2 separate regions of the Homo sapiens genome follow, and region 2 is linked to region 1. The links come from fine-mapping of genetic effects on gene expression. A gene starts in region 1. The other region holds a variant in brackets. All regions are shown on one strand. Distances are from middle to middle.

Region 1 (5,385 bases):
AAACAACAAAAAAATGCACAAAAAACCCACCAGACTGGAGGCAACACTCAAACCAGGTCAAAAGAAAAGTTTCCAATCAGTACATGGCCTTTCCAGGGTCCTTCTATCCATGTGTTCAAGCACAAGTATAACTGCCCACAAACTATGCCTGTACACATTATCCTACTCGAATATGGATTAAGTTGCTTAGAAAGATGAAAAAGATAGCATAGGTCATAAAGCCACCTGCAACACAGCTTTATTAGCTGTTCCTTTATACCTGAACAATGGTAAGCTTTCTTTTCAGGCACAGTGAAAACGTATACAAGACCTGCTGTCTCCCTCCAGGTAAAGCAGAATGGGAGACCCCACTGTGTTTTATTGATTATCAGGCCACTGTAAGAGCAACTTAAAAGATACGAAATCATGAAGTGGTTTGCTTTTAAACACTTATTATGGAGTATCTTTTACACAGAACTAGGACTTCCAGGTTAAACACCTATACAAGCTAAGTAACACCATTAATATTCCTGAATCACCCTCAAATAAGTCACTTTTATATTTTGTTCCAAAAAGAACTTGAAGTGGGAATGACATAAGTAAAATTATAGGTTTTTCAAGAACCAGAAAAAAAATTAAATATTACAAAAACTCAAATTCAGCAGCATCTAGGATTTGTTGTAACTCATTTTTCTTTCAATCTTAGAAATTTCTATGTTGAGCTCTCTAAAGAGAGGGGCAGAACAAAATGTTTAAAGCACACATTTTTAACAGAATTTGTAACAATTTCATTTAATGTTATAAAATTGCAGAAGTGACATGTGCAGTGTTTTGTAAATTATCAAAGAGAATATAATCATGTCCCTCTGCGGTTCACTGTGTTTTGGGGTAAAATATCTTTAACCTTTCTTAAAATACGGTGCACATTTAGAGTTTTTCAGGTGTTCCAAAAAAAATACAACTAACGATTCTTTTTGACATTAAGCACGGAAATCGAAATTAACCTTTTTACTTTTATCATTTATGTATTTTGAAAATATCTAAGTGTTACTCATATGCATTCTACAAATTTTTAACTACCCAGGATGTCGAGTTTCTATCTCCTTCCACAGCTGCAACGCTTTTATTTCTTGAGGCACAGAAATGGTCTCTGAACGAACTCCTGTTATTTCAGCACTTTTTGCAAAATACAATACTTCAACCTGAAAGTAAAGAAAATGCTTTTAATAACAACTCATACTCGTTTTCTGACTGTCAATGTTGAGCAGTTTTCTCATTTTCCAAATGTATTGCTTTAATCAAAGACAAATTTTATAAAGAAAATTAAATAACCCGTAAAAAATTTCAGTATACCTACAAGTTCAAATTCTGAAAACTTGTTGTTTTAAATACAATTCAGACTAATTTCTGGATGCCTTTTAGTTTTACAAACTTAAGTGTGCCATCATTAAAATCCTAAGTATTTATCTTCTAGGAAAACATGTTAAGCCTGCCTTAATTGACATAAAAGTATAGCACCTTTTATAAATATGTAAGCAAAGAACAAATGTTTGAGTCAAGAGATGAGTTACACAAATAAAATAAATGAATAAATAAGCGAAAAACCTGTTTCTCACGGTTGTCAAATGACCTTAGATTCCGGTCTGTATAACATCGTCCCCAGACGCTAAGGATTAAGTTATGCAACATAGTAAATCTGACATTTACAGAAGCAAGTAGGTTTGAAACACACGACAGACTGGAATTTGCTAGAACAAACTTGTGCCAGCAGCCTGGTATGTAAGGGATCCGACGAAGTAAAATAGGCACCTGTCACTCCGTGCAAACAACTCTTTACGAAATAATTACAGGTTTGCAAATGATCAAGGGTGTAGAAATCCACAGATGAAGCACAGTTCTTCACAAGAATTCTCCATGAGGTGCATTTCTTTTTAGATTAAAATTTTAGCTTCATCAAAACGAATAATCTGGGAAAGAGGTGGTCATAAAAGGTGGAGGCGCCTTCAGAACGAGTCCGTCCTTGCTGCCGTGAGCTGACAAGAGTTCTCGGAGAGGACCCGACTTCTGCTGGGGCAGTCGCAGTAAAGCCCGGAGACAGGAAGGGCCCGGGGGCGGGGGCGGGGGCGCCCCCGAACCCAAGACGCCGGCCAGGTTGGGGGCTAGTGGGGAGGTCCGACTGACCAAGGCTGGGTATGTGGAGGGAAAGGGCGGGAGAGACACGTCGAGGAGGGCTCCGCACCCAGGCCCGCACGCACACCCGCCACCCTTACCTGGCACAGCGGCACCATCCCGCCTAGGACAGCGGGACCGAATCACGGCCGCAAAGGCGCAGGCGCGGGCTCACCCGGAGCGCAGGCGTAACCCGACGGCGCTCAGCCCCCGCCTGCGCCTGCACGGAGCATGCGCACAACCAGCTCCGCCCCGCGCCGGGCTCTAGCTGTTTCCCTCAGGCGGCCTGTTCCACGCCAGGATTAGTTTTGCTTCGCAGATGGGCCGTGGTGGTGAGAGGAAGCAATCAGTATGGAAATGGAGAAATGGCTTACCATGCATGTCCTTCTCCCCAGGAGGGAGGTCGTGGTGCAGGCGAGCAGACGCCAGACTCCTGGACACTTGCCGCCTGCGTTATGGAGGCTTAGCTAATAACCTTGCAGGGGTCTTCAGGCTTTTCCACTGGCTCACCTTTAGGCTTCTGACACTTTTACCTACGGTATGTGAACCTCGAAAATTTGAGACAGGTCTCAGTTAACTTAGAAAGTTTATTTTGCCAACGTTGAGGACATGCCCGTGACACAGCCTCAGGAAGTCCTGAGGACATGTGCCCAAGGTGGTCAGGGCACAGCTTGGTTTTATACATTTTGGGGAGACAGGAGACATCAATCAATATGTAAAAAGTACATTAGTTCCTTCCAGAAAGGCGGAGACCGTTAAAAGCAAGCCCCGCCCCCCCCAACTGGGGGCTTCCAGGTAGGTAATAGACAGTAGCATTCTTTTGAGTTTCTGATAAGTCTTTCTAAAGGAGGCAATCAGAATATGCATCTATTCTTTGTCAGCAAAAGAGGTGACTTGGATAGAATAGGAGGCAGATTTGCCCTGAGTAATTCCCAGTTTGAAGGGGCCCAAGATTTTTTTCTTTCCCAGGTATATGATTAGTGTTTCTTAAAGACAGAATATCCGCCTGGTCAGAACATTCGAACTGTATGACTTTTCCTGTTTATTGGCTGCTCGGTAATTGTATACTGTCCGTCCAACTTTCCCAATTCTTGCCAACAAGAACTCTTGGCTTTAAATTGCTTGCGTCGTTAAGTGGATGTAAGTTACACGTCCCTTTCCTTGGAGCTCACAGTCCTGGGTAGGAGAGTTTTAAATATGAATGATAATTCCCTGTAATACTAAGGATCTGTGTTACATTTCAAGGGTGGAAGGGGAAAGTGGTTGTGTCACCTGGGGAGTGAGAAGATGCTGAGAAGGTAAATCTGCTAGAATGGTGGCAGTAAATGACAAGAGTGGGAGTAGAGCACGAAGAAATTTCACTTGCCTCTGACAAGCCACAGGGATATGAAGAAGCATAATAAGTTCACAGAAGGGCAAGTAGTTGGCAAGGCAGGTGTGCCTCCAGCAAAGGAGGTGATGAGAAGTGAGGCTGGAGAGTCCTTGGTAGGAAAAATTGACAAGGAGCAATGAATACCAATGTGTATCCTGGTAAAGTTGCTAAACATAAAGGATAAAGACTATATTCACACCCAGGCATAAAAACAAGGGAATGACAATAGTGGCCTTAGACTCCTCAGTGGCATCTGATGGCAATGTGCAGTGTGTAAAAAAGGCTGAGAACAAAAGCATGATCCCATAATATTACAGCCAAACTGGTGGGGCAGGATTCTCCTAAATCAGCAAAAACTCAAAAAACACAATACCCAAGAACCCTTCTTAAAAATCTTTCTTGGGCAAAAAGTCCACTCAATCAAGAGTAATCAAAGTAAATAACTCAGCAATAAAGGTATTAATATGGGAAAAATGAAAAACTAAAAAAACTGGCATTGAGATTTTAACCCATTCAAACGTAAAACTAAGATATCAATTATGGGATATGATTATAAAATAAAATGTAAATGACATCAGAATATTAAAAAAAAATGGAAACTGTCCAAAGTGGGAACATATAGTTACAAAATATCAATTCAGGTTTCTTAATATTTTTCATAATCTTCTTTATTTTAGAAAATATTTTAGGAGCAACTATCTTTTACAAATAAACAATAATCTGATGATTTATAATCCTATCAGTTTCACCAGTTATTTTGTTGATAAATTCAAGTAAATATAGGTCAATAATATTGCCTTGCTTTCATTTTTTTATTTTCTAATTCCTAATGAGGTGAATCTTTTCATATTTTCATTGAGCACTTATACTTCTCTGTGAAGTTTCTGTTCACATCGTTTATTCATTATGCTGTAGATATGACACAGTTCTTTTTTTTTTTACAAAATACAGCCCCATCTATAATTTGTGGATATGCAAGCAAAACTGATACCAAAATATTCCAGGCTTATTCCATAGGCTTTGATTTTACTTTTCTTATGAATTCATTAATTAAATCAGTGAATCATCACAATGGTATATAAATTATTTTAGTAATAGCAAAATGACTTTATGAACATTTGCATTTCACTTAAGCTACAATTTTTTGTGAAAACATAGTTGGAGCCACCATTTTCCCAGTTATTTTTACCATAAGGAATCCTATTTGGTTAAGAAAAAAAACAAGTTGAGGCAAAAACATTTCCATTTTGTTTTCAGATTGAAAAAAGACGAGATTCCATGAGACTAGAAATGTAGGAGCATCTCAGACCTTCACAGAACGCTCTGTTAGAAGATGAGAAACATAACGTTGCTTGTGAGAGGTGAAGCCAGCTGGACTTCCTGGGTCGAGTGGGGACTTGGAGAACTTTTCTGTCTAGCTAAAGGATTATAAGTGCACCAATCAGCACTCTGTAAAAACACACCAGTCAGCGCTCTGTGTCTAGCTAAAGGATTGTAAATGCACCAATCAGCACTCTGTAAAATGGACCAATCAGTACCCTGTAAAATGGACCAATCAGCAGGACGTGGGCAGGGACAAATAAGGGAATAACAGCTGGCGCCCCTAGCCAGCAGTGGCAACCCACTCGGATCACCTTCCATGCTGTGGAAGCTTTGTTATTTCACTTTTCACAATAAATCTTAGGGTTGCTTACTTTTTGGGTCCATGCCACCTTGAAGAGCTGTAACACTCACCACGAAGGTCTGAGGCTTCATTCTTGAAGTCAGACTAAGAACCCACCGGAAGGAACCAATTCCAGACACACGTGTAGTAGCAAATTATCAAAAATGTTCATTGCCTTTTCTGAAAAACAATTTTCCCAGAA
Region 2 (5,385 bases), 190 kb before region 1:
GAATACAGTAGAGATGTCTTATTTCAAGTCAATCAAATTCTTACTGTTTTATTTCAAAATGCACTTATGATGTCATAAAGGAAATCTTGTTTGTTCATTTTTATCATAAAATCGCAGGTCTAATTTTCTCATTTCCAAATATTTGTAAAACTATCTCTAGTCTTCCCTGTCTGCATTATCAGACATCCATATATTATGGAACGGCAGGAAAAGACACAGTGTTCTAGTTGACAAGAAACCTTATTCATGTCTTCATTTCTTTCACTCATTCATTTATTCCTTCAACTTGAAAACATTTAATTTCTGTGGGCCTTGTCTGTCAGTTGTGGTTGGTAAGTGATTAACTGCTCTGGGGGCAGACTGCTGGGCTGTATGCTTTCTGGGATCCATGTAACTACATATCTCGCCGTTTGATTTTAGAGCGAAGGGGAAAATTATCTGGTATTTTCTATCATCTGTAGGCTTTGTGCTACTTCAGTTTTTTTTTTTTTTAATTTTAGTGGATGAGGGAGTTTTGGAAATCAAACTATTAATGTTTAGAGATGGCTGGTAAGCCAGTGTGAATCATTTAAAATGTATTTTGTTGGGACACTGTGTATATGGGGAATGTTCCCAACAGAGGGCAGGAGTTTCCTAAACATTTTCTTAAAATGTACATGAGAGTGATAAAAACAAGAAGCAGCATGAAGGTAATGAGGAAACTGATTTTAGTAACTGACATTAAGACTTAGAGACTTGACGGTAAACTTGGAGCTTTAAAGGAACCAGGCCAATTTTCCTACTTCTGACTTATTTCTGTATTATTGATATATTCATAGTCTGTATTTTGAAAATTGTAGTTCAGGGGCAGGGGAGTGACAGAAAATGTGCACCCTTTTGTGCCACATTTGTTCTTCCTCAGTGATTTTCATGTTGATATGCTTCATGATACTTATCATGAAGCTTATTCTGTCAGGACCAAGATCAATCTATTATTTGGTAAAATAACACTGGAGTTGCCCCTCCTATTTAGTTAATCAGAACTGAACACTTAGGAATTAGAATGTGGATAAAATTTGAATGGGTATGAAACCAGATATGGCATTGTCTCCAACCTGCTAAAAATCATCTCAGTCTATGTTTGTCCACAAATTCAGTGTCTAAGTTATGTCCAGGTACTGGTGTTTAAAGGACTGAAATATTTTCAAAATTTCGAAAATTGTTTTGGATTTTGAAAGAAGCACTTTGAAATTTGTTCTGGAGTCAGCCAGTGTAGAATTTGTATCCCAAATATTCCACATTCTGAGAGACTTTGGCAACGTCGTTTGGTCTCTTAGAGGGTCAATCTTTCATCTGTAAAATAAGGACAATAATAGTTACTCATCTTAGAGGACTGTTGAAATAATTTGCAATAATGTATATAAAGCTCATAATTTTGAATACTATAAATGATTATTGTTATTGGTGGCATGTTAACAGTATTAATCATATTCACATCCTTTCCAAATAATTTTACATTATAAAATTCTTGGCCAGGCATGGTGGCTCACGCCTGTAATCCCAGCACTTTGGGAGGCTGAGGTGAGTGGATCACCTGAGGTCAGGAGTTCGAGACCAGCCTGGCCAACGTGGTGAAACCCCGTCTCTACTAAAAACACAAAAATTAGCTGGGTGTGGTGGCACATGCCTGTAATCCCAGCTAGTCGGGAGGCTGAGGCAGGAGAATCACTTGAACCTGGGAAGTGGAGGTTGCAGTGAGCCGAGATCGTGCCGCTGTACTCCAGCCTGGGTGACAGAGAGAGACTCTGTCTCAAACAAACAAACAAACAAACAAACAAACAAAAACTTATAGCTGTAGGTATATATTATATTAATGAAATGTAACTCATTTTATAGAAAGTTTGCCCTTCTGAAGTTGGGAAATGTTCCCGGAAGTGTTACATAATGATCTTTGGCTTGAGGTCTCAAGAAAAACTATATTGTGATGCAGGTAGCTCCTATGTTGACACAGCCA[A/G]GTGTGATGTTGCCATCACTCCAGCAGGGCCCTCTGAGGAACTGGAAGTGAGTCAACAGGTCATACTCTGAAACCTCCACATTCCCCTATGCCCCTTGTCAGAATGCCAATCCCTCTCCAGGGAAGCAAAAGCCTGATGAGATCATATGTCAGATTAGATGCACAAGAATGCTGCAGTAAGCCTGACCCTTGGGAACAGAAGAAGGAGACATAACAAGATCAGAACACCCGGTAAATATGATACCAGTGATATATTTTATGTTTCACCCTCTAGGACAAGCATGACTTTCAGGACTCTGTGAGAATAACGTTGGACTTTAATCTTACCGATCCAGAAAATGGGCCTGTTCTTGATGATTCTCTACCAAACTCAGTACATGAATATGTAAGTCAGATTTCTTTAAAATACAAAATACCAACTTGTGAACATTTTAATGTCACTAGTAAACTGTGTTTTTTCACTACTCTGCATTGATCACAAAGAACGAACAACTAACTGGAAGAAAGAAAAAAAAGGCAAGCAGATTTTATTCCTGGTCAGGAATGGAGAAAGAGGGAGCTCTTGCTCTAAAGACCTTCTCTTCAAGCTGTGAAAACCTGGGGAATTTTAAGGAGTTAGATGTGGGGCAGGGAGGTATATGTAAGCATGTCCAGAGAGGAACTCCAGATGTACAAGTACAGCTCATAAACATGCTTCCTTATACAACATATGTTCAAGAAATGGTGGCCATTTTCTTCTATGGCAGGGACTTTAGCATTATAATGACATGTTAATGATCTAAAGGTAACAAGGGGTTGCTGGTTCTTGTTTGCTCCGTTTTCTCAATGGCTTTATCTTCCTCTGGTAATTGGCAAAGGGTCCTGAAGCTCCCAGGCCGTCTATAGTTGTTTTTCAGCAAGCTTACCTACAGATAAATAGACTAGAAAAAAAAAAACTGTTTAAGAAAAAATAATGCACTTTCTCAGCTATCTACTGTTTAACAAAATAATGAACTTTCTCAGTTATCTACTCTTCAAGAAAATAGTAAACTTTCTCAGCCATATCTCCAGGTTTGCCCTGGTAACATTAGGAAAAAGCTTGAAACCCATGCACACATAACCCTAAATCAATTTAAAATGTTTTAAAAAAGAATTAGGCTCTTCTAGACTTTTTCCAATCCTTCTAATTTCCTATTGTTGGAGTTTAAGAAAACTAATAAATGACACTCATTTTTACCTCATTTGAATTTAGGACCAATGGAAAGAAATCTCCCCCATTATTCTAATAAGCACTGGATTGCAGTGTATGGTTTAGGTATAAAGGGTGTCCTCACGCTGAAGCATGGACTTAGACCACCAGTAACCACCTAGGTCATCAGCAGTGCTGATCCATCTCTGTCCTTCTTCATGGAGCCCACCTTGTAAAACTTGTCAAATGGAGTAGAGCCAAATGTGTGCTTCCTGTGGGTACAGCTGCTCTGAGAATAGAAATGAGAGAAAGGGACTGAGTTGTGTTCACTTAGTTCCTGTTCCCAAAGTTAGAGTCCATGTGCCACCCCTGAGAGTGGAGTGAGGGGAGAGAAGAGGGAGGGTGTCACTAGCGTGGCTCCAATGGAAGAGATATGAGGGATGGGGAATTCTTTTTCCCCATACACCTATCTTCCATTCTCCCTTCCTTCCTACCAGATATATTGATTGTCTTATACATACCAGGCATTGGAGCTTACAGTCTAACACTGGAAACAGGTATTAAGTAGTAATTAGAGCATATGCTATGGAGGAGGATTTCAGAGCTCTCTAGGAACTTCCACCTAGGCTGAGAAGTCAGGACAGCCCTCCTGAAGTTGTGCCATTTCAGTGGAGCCCTGAAGGATAGGGTGATTTCCACCCTATTTAGGGGAGTTTGGGGAGCAGAGGGGATGCTAAGTGTGAAAGTCCTGAGCATGAAGGAAACAACGACATTCGCTAGTGTGGCTGACGCTAAAGAGCAAGAAAGGAGGTGACGTGAGGTGAGGCCGGAGGTAAAGGCAGGGGCCGGGTCATTCGGGACTTGGTGCCACTGCACAAATTCTAAACTTTTGAAAGAGCAGTGCAGTGCTTTTGAAGGTTTTTATTTGGTTCAGCCACACGACAGGATGCAGCAGAGTGAAGAGTGGTTGGAGGGAAACAGGTGGATGTGGGAGCCCCGTGGGAAGCTATTACTTTAGTTCAGGGAGGAAATGAGAATGCTTGGGTGTGAGGTGGTGGTGGGACTGCAGAAGCAAGAAAGGATTGGAGAGATATTTAGAAGAGGAGTAGAATGGACAGGGCTTGGTGAGTTACATATGGTGGTGGTGGAGAGGCGGTCAATGAAGAAGAATCAAGCAAAACTCCTAGATTTGTGGCTTGACCGTTTTCCACCCTCTCAACTGAGCTTTATGATATTCCTAAGTATTTGATTAATTTTAAGAGAAAAATCTCATGATTAGAGTTGAGTAGATTTAGATCTTGCAGTACTTGACTTTGTATTTCAAAACTGTCCTTCCCTGGCAGACAAAAGCCAGTGCAAAGCACCCATGAAAATTGTGCGTTCTTAAAAGGACAAGCACAATTTACATTTGTAAGTAAATGTTTACTCTTCTCCCCTATAAATTACAGGGATAAATATAAAATCCCTTAAGATTTTTGCAGGGAAATTCTCCTTATGAGTTGCTTAACTTACTTTGGCTGTATGCCATTTTTGTTACACAAATTGATGGGTAATTTTCAACAATGCGTAGCTAAATTTTGAAAAATTCTTTCCTGTCATCATTTCAGATTCCCTTTGCCAAAGATTGTGGAAATAAGGAAAAATGTATCTCAGACCTCAGCCTGCATGTCGCCACCACTGAAAAGGACCTGCTGATTGTCCGATCCCAGAATGATAAGTTCAACGTTAGCCTCACAGTCAAAAATACAAAGGACAGTGCCTATAACACCAGGACAATAGTGCATTATTCTCCAAATCTAGTTTTTTCAGGAATTGAGGTAAACTTCCAGTTTTTCATTTATTTGTTCTCTTAACATCATTTACCTGGCCTACTTTTCATGCTACTGAGATAATTGCTTTTATTAGATTGATTTTGAAAGAATAGAAGGAATTTTTTACATTAGTCCTCACCAATGGTGAAAGTATTAAGCTTTTTAAAAAAGTTTTGTTTTATTTATTCAAATATGTATGTCTTTTCTTAGATTCTGTGTGAGAAAAGGATAGCTCATGTATAAAAACTGTGTGTTTCATAAAATCCTTAAACCACTGAAACTGAAACAGAGTCAAGGAAAATAATAACAATCAAAGCCAAAACAGTTAACAGACGTACAGAGAGGTACCTCTGTGTTAAGCAAAAAAAATTTACCTGCAGGAAAATCAAGATACCATATCTCCCTTTCTATGC

Direction of the effects. Alleles are on the strand shown, and positions count from the first base shown. SD is a standard deviation of normalised expression in the study named.
In carriers of allele G in region 2, the expression in neutrophils of the gene that starts at base 2,295 in region 1 tends to be lower than with A alone (large effect, 0.76 SD a copy in BLUEPRINT).

What was found.
Region 2: its variant is fine-mapped to the expression of MOCS2 in neutrophils (BLUEPRINT, PIP 0.90).

The regions. Positions count from the first base shown.
Region 1 is chr5:53,107,463-53,112,847 of GRCh38, forward strand. It overlaps MOCS2 (molybdenum cofactor synthesis 2), which reads right to left and starts at 2,295. Exons shown (of 7, transcript NM_004531.5): 1 at 1,789-2,295; 2 at 1,060-1,181. It overlaps MOCS2-DT (MOCS2 divergent transcript), which reads left to right and starts at 2,380. Exons shown (of 2, transcript NR_104654.1): 1 at 2,380-2,686. RefSeq lists a silencer at 2,034-2,323.
Region 2 is chr5:52,920,510-52,925,894 of GRCh38, forward strand. ITGA1 (integrin subunit alpha 1) reads left to right here. Exons shown (of 29, transcript NM_181501.2): 18 at 2,268-2,378; 19 at 4,769-4,978. Among named protein-coding and RNA genes, the nearest start is that of ITGA2, 66 kb to the right of the region's middle. The variant A/G (reference allele first, on the strand shown) is at 1,994.